Linked DNA regions of Homo sapiens: all the other regions are linked to region 3. Evidence: fine-mapped expression QTL. A gene starts in region 3. Each other region holds a variant in brackets. All regions are shown on one strand. Distances are from middle to middle.

Region 1 (2,762 bases), 23 kb before region 3:
TGAGCCCTTCAAACTGTTCCAACCTCTGCCTGTTATCCAGTTCCAAAGTTGCTTCCACATTTTCGGGCATCTTTTCAGCAACATACCAATTTACTGTATTAGTCTGTTTTCACGCTGCTGATAAAGACATACCTGAGGCTGGGCGATTTACAAAAGAAAGAGCTTTAATTGGACTTACAGTTCCATGTGGCTGGAATATCTTACGTGAATGGTAGTAGGCAAAAAGAGCTTGTGCAGGAAAACTCCCCCCTAAAATAACCATCAGATCTCATTAAACTTACTCACTATCATGAGAACAGCACAGGAAAGACCTGCCCCCATAATTCAATCACCTCCCACCAGGTCCTTCCCACAACACGTGGGAATTCAAGATGAGATTTGGGTAGGGACACAGCCAAACCATATCAATGCCTCTATAAACCCACCAGGAACACTTCTAGAAAATGTTGAACACCTCCGAGGCCCCACAGAACCCTCCTCTACCCACATCTTCATGGCAAGGAGCTACCATGGATCCCCCTCCGAGTGTGCCCAGACCAGTTACAGGACTGGTTACAGTGGAAGGCAACTGAGAGGCATAGAGCAAGAGCTGCCCTCCCACTAAAGTCACACACCACAGAAAGAACTCATTCTTCATAAGAAGACTGGAGCTACTGAAAAAGGGACAGACACTAGCTGCCAAAAACCTGGCTGAAGTCCACAACATCACATCCCCTCATCTCAGACTCACACAGGTGCTCTCTACACCATCACACTGTTTACTTCAGAGAACTCCACACACACTAAGATTCCCTTGCTTATTTGTTTGTCTCTCCTTTCCAGAATAGGAATTCCATGAGGCCAGGGGCTTTGCATGTCTATTTACCGCAGAATCTCAGAGCTTCTTCTACAGTAGATACTGAATACATATTTGTTGAATGAATGAATGTGTCCCCAGATGTTTCTCATTTAAATGAAAATGATCAAACTGACCAATTTTTATAAGTTTAGTTAAAGATGTGACCATCTTACTTCATTACATCTCCATTAAGACAGTTTGGTATTTCAGTTACAGGTGTATGACTGGGAGTTCAATTCTTTTCTGTGATAAGTACGAATGACTCAAGCTACCATTCAATATTCACTTTACAGATATATGAAGCTTGTCTACTCACGTTCAAAGGTTTTCCTTAATTCGTCTTTTATCTAAATCAGTCAAGTCTCTTCTCATAAATGAGAAATATTAAATGAGTGGCAGCTCTCAAGAAATAAAAAAGTGACTAGCAGAAATAATCTGCAACTTCTGTGAATAAGATTTTTCTCAGTGTCTAAAATAACAAACACCATTTATGGACCAAAGACTAGGTGCCATGAGTTTTAGAAATTG[G/A]TCCCCACTCCACTGTTATGTGTACCATTATCCCAGTGGCAGAGATACACAGAAAGCCAAGGCTCAGAGGCAGTAAGTCATGGGTCCGAGGCCTCTTGCTGATGACAAAACTGGAATCTGAACCCACGTCAGGCTTACATTTACACATACATGTATACAAATGTACACATATACAGCTTAGATTCCATAAAATACAGTAATCTAGTGGTGGAACAAATTATTTCTAATAAATGTTATAAAATATAAACGCCTCTCTGAATCCTTTAGAAAATTAATTTTGCCATGAAGTACAAAAAGGAAAGAGATACAACTTAAGTATGAACAAAGTTATAGGATACTACAAACAGTTGGTAATATATACTGTCTTTAAAAATCATTTCTCCTTATCGAGGCATTAAGCCATATTGTTTATAATGTGAAGAGCTATTGGCATCTTATTTTCCTACCCATAACCATGACCATCACTTATTCATCTTTTCATGCATCCAGGTGCATGGAAAGGCAGTAAGTACAATTTTTAAGAAAATAGCATCAAAAGCAGATTTTAAATCTACCTGTTTTTCTTCGTTTGTTTTCTCCAACAGTTAAGGAAAGTAATAGTAATTTCTCATTCCAAACCAAAGACAATTATGCTCCTTTGCTAAGGACACAGCTGTAAGTCTCTACAAGATCAGGGAAGACTACAATATTTCAGAAAAACACTCCCAGTCAAGTTTATGCTTGAATGGGCAGCTGGAAATGCATCGATGTACAGGGCCTCTTTTCACGGCCTCTAAAAGTGCTTGCATCATATGCCCACACTGTGTCTATCCCCTCCCCCGTGACGTGGTCTGGAGTCCAATGTGGGAAAGGGAACCGGCAAGCAATAACTCGTGCATCATCCTCAAGTTCACGTTCAAGTTTCTTCTCCAACTGCAGCATCTGTGGAGAGTAACAGCTATTATTTTAGTGAGCAGTGAGTCAGAGGAAATGATCCCAAAATTTCCTGTTTTTAAGAGTCCCTGAAAATACCTGAGCAAAAATTACTACTTGTTAAAAAGAGCACTCTGGGACACAAACACATAAACAAACAATCCATTGAAATACAGAAGATACACTGACAGCAGTTGTAAGAACACCTTCTAGTATTAATTATAAAATATGCCATTTTTAGCAGATGTCTATCATAGATTTATAGTTTTCTAAATAAAATCAGGATGTGGCAGTAATTTTAATAAGAAGCAGTTTTAAATAACGCACTTCAACACTTCAATATACCTAGTCTCATATATTTAAGACATTATTTTTCCACCATTTTTTAAGAGAGAGGGGTCTTGTTATGTTGCCCAGGCTGGTCTCAAACTCCTGGGCTCAAGCAATCTGCCCACCTCGGCCTCCCAAAGTGCTGGGATGACAG
Region 2 (2,762 bases), 240 kb after region 3:
TTGTCTCAAACTAGGGACGTATATTCAACAAACCTGCACCTTATTCAAATGTAGATTCTGATCCTTAGGTTCTGGGTGGGGCCTGAGATCCTGCACCTCTAACAAGCTCCCAGATGACAAGCATCCAAGATCACACTTTTCCTAGCTCTGGATCACACTTTTCCTAGCTCCTAGCAGAATCTCAGGCTCATCCCAGCCTCTTGAGCCAGAATTCAAATTTTCACAAGAGCCCCGATTCGTTCAGATGTGCATTAAAGTGTGAGAAGCCCACACTGGATCACTGAGGGAGGTCGCAGTTGCACCTGGGGAACCAGGAACCGTGGAGGCATGAGCCCATCCTGGAGACCCTGATTTAGTTGGTGGGGAGTGGCCTGGACATCGATTGCTGCCTATTCACAGTGGTTCTTGATTTTGCTGCCATTAACATCACCTGGGGAGCTCTGAAAGGCGTCCCCGTGATGTTAATAGGCAGCAAGATCGGGAACTACTAGGCTGCGGGTTCCTCAGGTTCTAATCTATGATGTCATTGGCTTTATCAGGGCAATTTTTCCTGGCCACATTAGGCAGGAGAGGTGCCTGTGCATCTCAGAAGTGTCTATGGAACTCTGCTTCTGAACTTCCCAGCACGCTCAAAACAGGACCTGGTTTACAGCAAAGGGCCAGCTCCTGGCAACATCATGAAACAAACGTACACTATCCTCTACCCAGGGTTCCCTTCAGCCTATAGGTGCCCGACGGCCCCTGCTCTGTGCTCCATCCTGACATCAGGAAACCCACGAATGGGAGAAAATCTCATGTCACCTGTTTACAGGTGAGTGAACATTTAAGTCAATGGGTTGCTCTCTCCTGGGGAGCTCTAATTGTAGAATTTAAGAGGGCAGAGTGAAGCCAGTGGGAGTCCTGCCAGGTTTGAGTCACAGCTTGGCCACTTATGAGTCCCTCTCATTACCCCACCAGAGCCCGGCGTCCTGATGCATAACACCCACCACCCGGCTTAGGGAGGGCTGACAGAGTGAATTACTGACAGAGGATGGCCCTTGGCCATTTCTGCTTCCTTCACTTTCCCATCACTGCCTTAGAATCTGGAGAGACTCATGCTGGCTTCACCTGGACAGGCATCCTGACACGCAAGCGAGGATTGCTCCCACCAATTTTCTGCGAGAGAAACAGGGGTTCGGTTGATTCCTGGCAACACGTTCGTGTGGGGATGCACGTGGGGGTGCAGAGCTGGACTTGGGAGATGCTTCAGCTGATAGCACACTTTTCCTTTGGGGAGTTTTCTTCCTGCTGTTATAACACCTGTCTCCAAACAAAGCCTTCATTGGTCAACAGTGAATGATTCATTTATTCTGTGCATAGACCTATGGCGTGAGATGCATTTGGAAACCTTGAGAACAGCGGTTCCCAACCTTGGTGCTTGGAGTAATGTCCGAGGACATTTTTGGTTGTCACAACTGGGGCAGGGAACTGTTGCTGGCGTCTAGTGGGTGGGGTCCAGGGGTACTGCTAAA[C/T]GTCCTGCAGGGCAGAGGCTAGTGCCACCGCAGAGAATGATCCAGTGCAAATGTCGCTGGTGCTGAGAATCCTACTTCAGACCCAGGGCAAGACTGATTGCATGTGTTCATTTATATCTGCTCTTGTAGTCATTCAGTCAAGAAATGAGCACCTTGAATGACTATTAAATCAAGACAGGTTGGGTGTGGTGGCTCACACCTGCAATCCCAGCACTTTGGGAGGCCGAGGCAGGTGGATCACTTGAGGTTAGGAGTTTGAGACCACCCTGGCCAACATGGCGAAACCCTGTCTCTACTAAAAATACAAAAATTAGCAGGGCATGGTGGTGCATGCTTGTGATCCCAGCTAATTGGAAGGCTGGCGCACGATAATCACTTGAACCTGGGAGGAAGAGGTTGCAATGAGCAGAGATTGCACCGCTGTACTCCAGGGTGACAGAGCAAGACTGTCTAAAAAAAATCAAGACAGATCTCTGAGACTCCACAGGTCAATGGAAGATGAACAGAGGGGCGGTGGGGCTGCCCCCCACCCATGTGGGAGGCATGGGCAATGCCTAGGTTGACCAGCTGCCCATGCTCTGAGGCAGTAGTCTCAGGGCAGGGTGTGCACCCTCCCAGGCAGGGCAGCACTCACTTATGGTACAGAAGGAATCTTAGAGCTTCCCTTACTCAGGAATGAAATGAGCTCTAGCCCCTGCCATCACCTTTTGCTCAACACTCACCCACTCCAGGCTTCAAAAGGAGGCTGCCCACATGGACAGCTCAGAGGGACTCCAGGGCACGTGGTTGATGGAGAAGCCAGATGCAGAGTGGTTCACTTGGGGGTGCAGTTCAGGAAGCCACGGGGTGGGTGTGAGGGTGTAGTGGAGCGTATCAGTGCAAGGATACCCTGAGACTGGGGGTGACATTGACTCCACAGGCACGGGAAGGAGCTTGGAAACAGACTGAACTCAGAACATGCATGTCACGAGGGGAGGGGCTGGAGGCTTGGGGTTGGGAGAGGCTGCCTCCACTGCTGAGGGCACAACTTCCTGGTTCAGCCCCGGCAGGCCTGCAGATCCCCCTGCATCCTTTCCCTGAAGATGGGCCATCTGTGCCTAGACAGGTTGGCATGTGTATTAGATTCTTAGGGCTGCCACAGCAAAGAACCACAGACTGGGGGGCTTAAATAACACAAGTGTATTTTCTCACAGTCTAGGAGGCTGGAATTGCAAGGAGCTCAGGGTGTCAGCAGGGCTGGTTTCTCCTGAG
Region 3 (2,762 bases):
AATTGGCAAAGCTAACGTGAAATAAGACCTGACTCCAAAATCTAAAATGTCCTTGAAGAACACTTCAAGGTCTAGCGCGTAAGTATGCCAAGCATGAAGAGTTAACAGATCACCAACCATCCCATGACAGTCAGTCCTCCCTGTTTTTAGAGACAGAATCTCGCTCTGTCGCCCAGGATGGAGTGCAGTGGCGCGATTATAGCGCACTGTAAACTGAACTCCTGGGCTCCACCCATCCTCCTGCCTCAGCCCCAGAGTAGATGGGAACACAGTCGCCAAGTCTGTTCTTGAGTTTCAGGACAGGGTCAAATGTTATAGTGCATGTATTCATTTCAGCACTTATTGAGTGCCTAATAAAGTCTGGGAATAATACAACTTTATTAGTTAAGTCCCTGCCCATGGCAGTAGGGGAGAAGCAAGGATGGAAACCCTCAACAAATAAATCTAAACCTATCAAATATTAAGTCATGATCTTGGAGGGCGGGGAGGAAGGCAGCATAAGAGATTTAGAGGACAGCTGCGGTTGCCAAGATCTTTCTGAGGCAGCATAATACAGGGCTTAAGAGTGAGACCTGCCGGGCACCGCGGTGGCTCAGGCCCAACACTTGGGGAGACCTAGACGGGTACATCACTTGAGGTCAGCCGTTCGAGACCAGCCTGGCCACTACGGCGTTAACACCGTCTCTACTAAAAATACAAAAATTAGCGAGCGTGGTGGTTCTGTGCCTGTAGTCCCAGCTGCCTGGGAGGCTGAGGCACGAGAATCACTGGAACCCGGGAGGCGGAGGCTGCAGTGAGCCGAGACCGCGCCACTGCACTCCAGCCCGGGCTACAGTCTTGTCTCAAAAAAAAAAAAAAAAAAAAAGAGTGTGGGACCCATTGCATCAGGCTGTGTAACTGTTTCTTACTAGCTGTATACCAGTGGCAAGTTACTGAACCATTTGTGCAAAATGTTAATTTATTTACCAACACTGTGTTCAGCTTGCCAGGCACCGTTCTCCTTGAATCTCACAGCAGCCCTGTGAGTAGGCACTACTGTTACCACCGTCACTTTGCAGACAGGGAACCCGAGGGACAAAGAAGTTAAGGGATTTCCTCAAAGCCACAGCTAGGAAGAGCGGCAGAACTGCGATTCCAATCCATCAGTGTGCCTCCACTATCCCTATTCCTTAAGATCGTGCCAAAGGCTGAGTCACTTGCACTAAGTAGCCTAGAACAGTCTCTGGGGAAACGCGCCCGCCGACAAGGATCGCCAGAACCGGCGCGGGCACCGCGCGGCGACCAGGAGCTCTGGTCACCGAAGGCCAGGCTGGAGGCCAGAGCAGCCGCCCGCACCCGGTCACCGCCTCGACAGTGGAGACCTCAGCTGACCGCGAGCCCCCGGCCCGCCCGCACCCCTTCTCATGCCCCCAGGAACCCGCCAAGCCGCTCCAGCCTCACCTCCTCCTCCCTCCATCGCGAGATTTCCAACAGCGTTTTTAAAAAAAAAAAAAAAAAAAAAAAAAAAAAAAAAAAAACCGGAAATGGGTCCTACCATCTTCTCGGAGCCGGAGTGCGAAGAAATAAAGAAATAGTGCTTTAAGTCAATGAATTCCTCCTTGGGACCCACTATCGAGAAACTATCAGTGGTAACGTTTTAAAAAATGACAAATTCAATCTGCTCTTGACTTGTGTGTCCTAAGATTTCCACTAAGTGTCTTCAAACCTCCCCCTCCCCGGCTTCCTGGATAATAGAAGTTCCCGAAGGCCGCCGATTCCAGAAGATACTGTCTGGCGTGAAATTAGTCTCAGTAGAAACATAAGTCCCGCGCGTCTTGTGCTGCGCGTGCGCAAGCTTTTGGGCCCTCCCGAGAAAGGGAAGTGCATTCTCGCTTCCGTAGCGGTCTCCGCCGGTTGGGGGGAAGTAATTCCGGTTGTTGCACCATGGCGTCCATGGGGACCCTCGCCTTCGATGAATATGGGCGCCCTTTCCTCATCATCAAGGATCAGGACCGCAAGTCCCGTCTTATGGGACTTGAGGCCCTCAAGGTAATGGCACAGGGACCTGCTCGCGGTGGGCTAAGGGGAGGTGGCCGAGGCCGTGGCTCTGCGCCTGCGCGAGTTGAGGAGCGGCTCTGCCATGTGCTCCCCGGAAAGGTCGAGAATCTCCGTCTCCCTGCGGTCTCCGGCCGCTCAGCCCGCTTACTGAGCTCGGGAGACGCCGGCGCCTAATCCTGGGCTCGGAATGTGGGGGCCAGCCAGGCTGGGCCGCCAGCGCCCTTCGGAGCTGGGTGGGGCCGCTCAGTCCGGTCGCCCGCGGGAGCAAAGCGGGACCGCCTCCCCGCCCGGCTCCTCCAGCCTGACGGCCGCGTGGGACTGCGCTCCAGTGGGAGGGCGCCGGGGAGATGCTCTGTCACCTGTCGGTTAAGGCGCTGCTGCTTAACCTTTCGCTGGTCCACCCGCAACGGCCCTTCCGTTTTCTTTGTCACTCGTAAAGGTGTGGTCACTTAACAGGGTATTTCATTTCTGAGTGCTTTTTTGCCCACCCTTGAGGAAAAATAGCGAAGAGTGAAAAACGGACGCACATAACCGTAATACAAGGTGGTGTGCAGTGAGAAGGACAGCTACGGAGAGGGTGCACATAAGCGTGGTGCTGGAGGACAGCTTTAGATCGGGGTGAGAGGTAGCATTCTAGGGAGAGGAAACGGTAGAAGTAAAGGCTTGGGCAAGAATGCGCATGGCACGTTGTAGAATGGAAGAGCCATCCGGTTTTAATGGAGCAC

Direction of the effects. Positions count from the first base shown, and alleles are read on the strand shown. Sizes are in standard deviations (SD) of each study's normalised expression. Not every link is listed here.
For the expression in skeletal muscle of the gene that starts at base 1,471 in region 3, allele G in region 1 goes with a lower level than allele A (moderate effect, 0.75 SD a copy in GTEx).

The links. PIP is the estimated chance that this variant, and not a neighbour inherited with it, causes the effect.
Region 1: its variant is fine-mapped to the expression of ATPSCKMT in skeletal muscle (GTEx, PIP above 0.99).
Region 2: its variant is fine-mapped to the expression of ATPSCKMT in fibroblasts (GTEx, PIP above 0.99).

Annotation. Positions count from the first base shown.
Region 1 is chr5:10,225,361-10,228,122 of GRCh38, forward strand. It overlaps ATPSCKMT (ATP synthase c subunit lysine N-methyltransferase), which reads right to left. Exons shown (of 5, transcript NM_199133.4): 5 at 147-2,287. The coding sequence ends at 2,081. Among named protein-coding and RNA genes, the nearest start is that of ATPSCKMT, 23 kb to the right of the region's middle. The variant G/A (reference allele first, on the strand shown) is at 1,367.
Region 2 is chr5:10,490,616-10,493,377 of GRCh38, forward strand. No RefSeq gene overlaps it. Among named protein-coding and RNA genes, the nearest start is that of LINC02212, 11 kb to the right of the region's middle. The variant C/T (reference allele first, on the strand shown) is at 1,512.
Region 3 is chr5:10,248,418-10,251,179 of GRCh38, forward strand. ATPSCKMT (ATP synthase c subunit lysine N-methyltransferase) reads right to left here and starts at 1,471. Exons shown (of 5, transcript NM_199133.4): 1 at 1,441-1,471. The coding sequence starts at 1,456. CCT5 (chaperonin containing TCP1 subunit 5) reads left to right here and starts at 1,863. Exons shown (of 11, transcript NM_012073.5): 1 at 1,863-2,028. The coding sequence starts at 1,924. RefSeq lists silencers at 1,241-1,360, 1,371-1,430, 2,181-2,250, 2,321-2,460.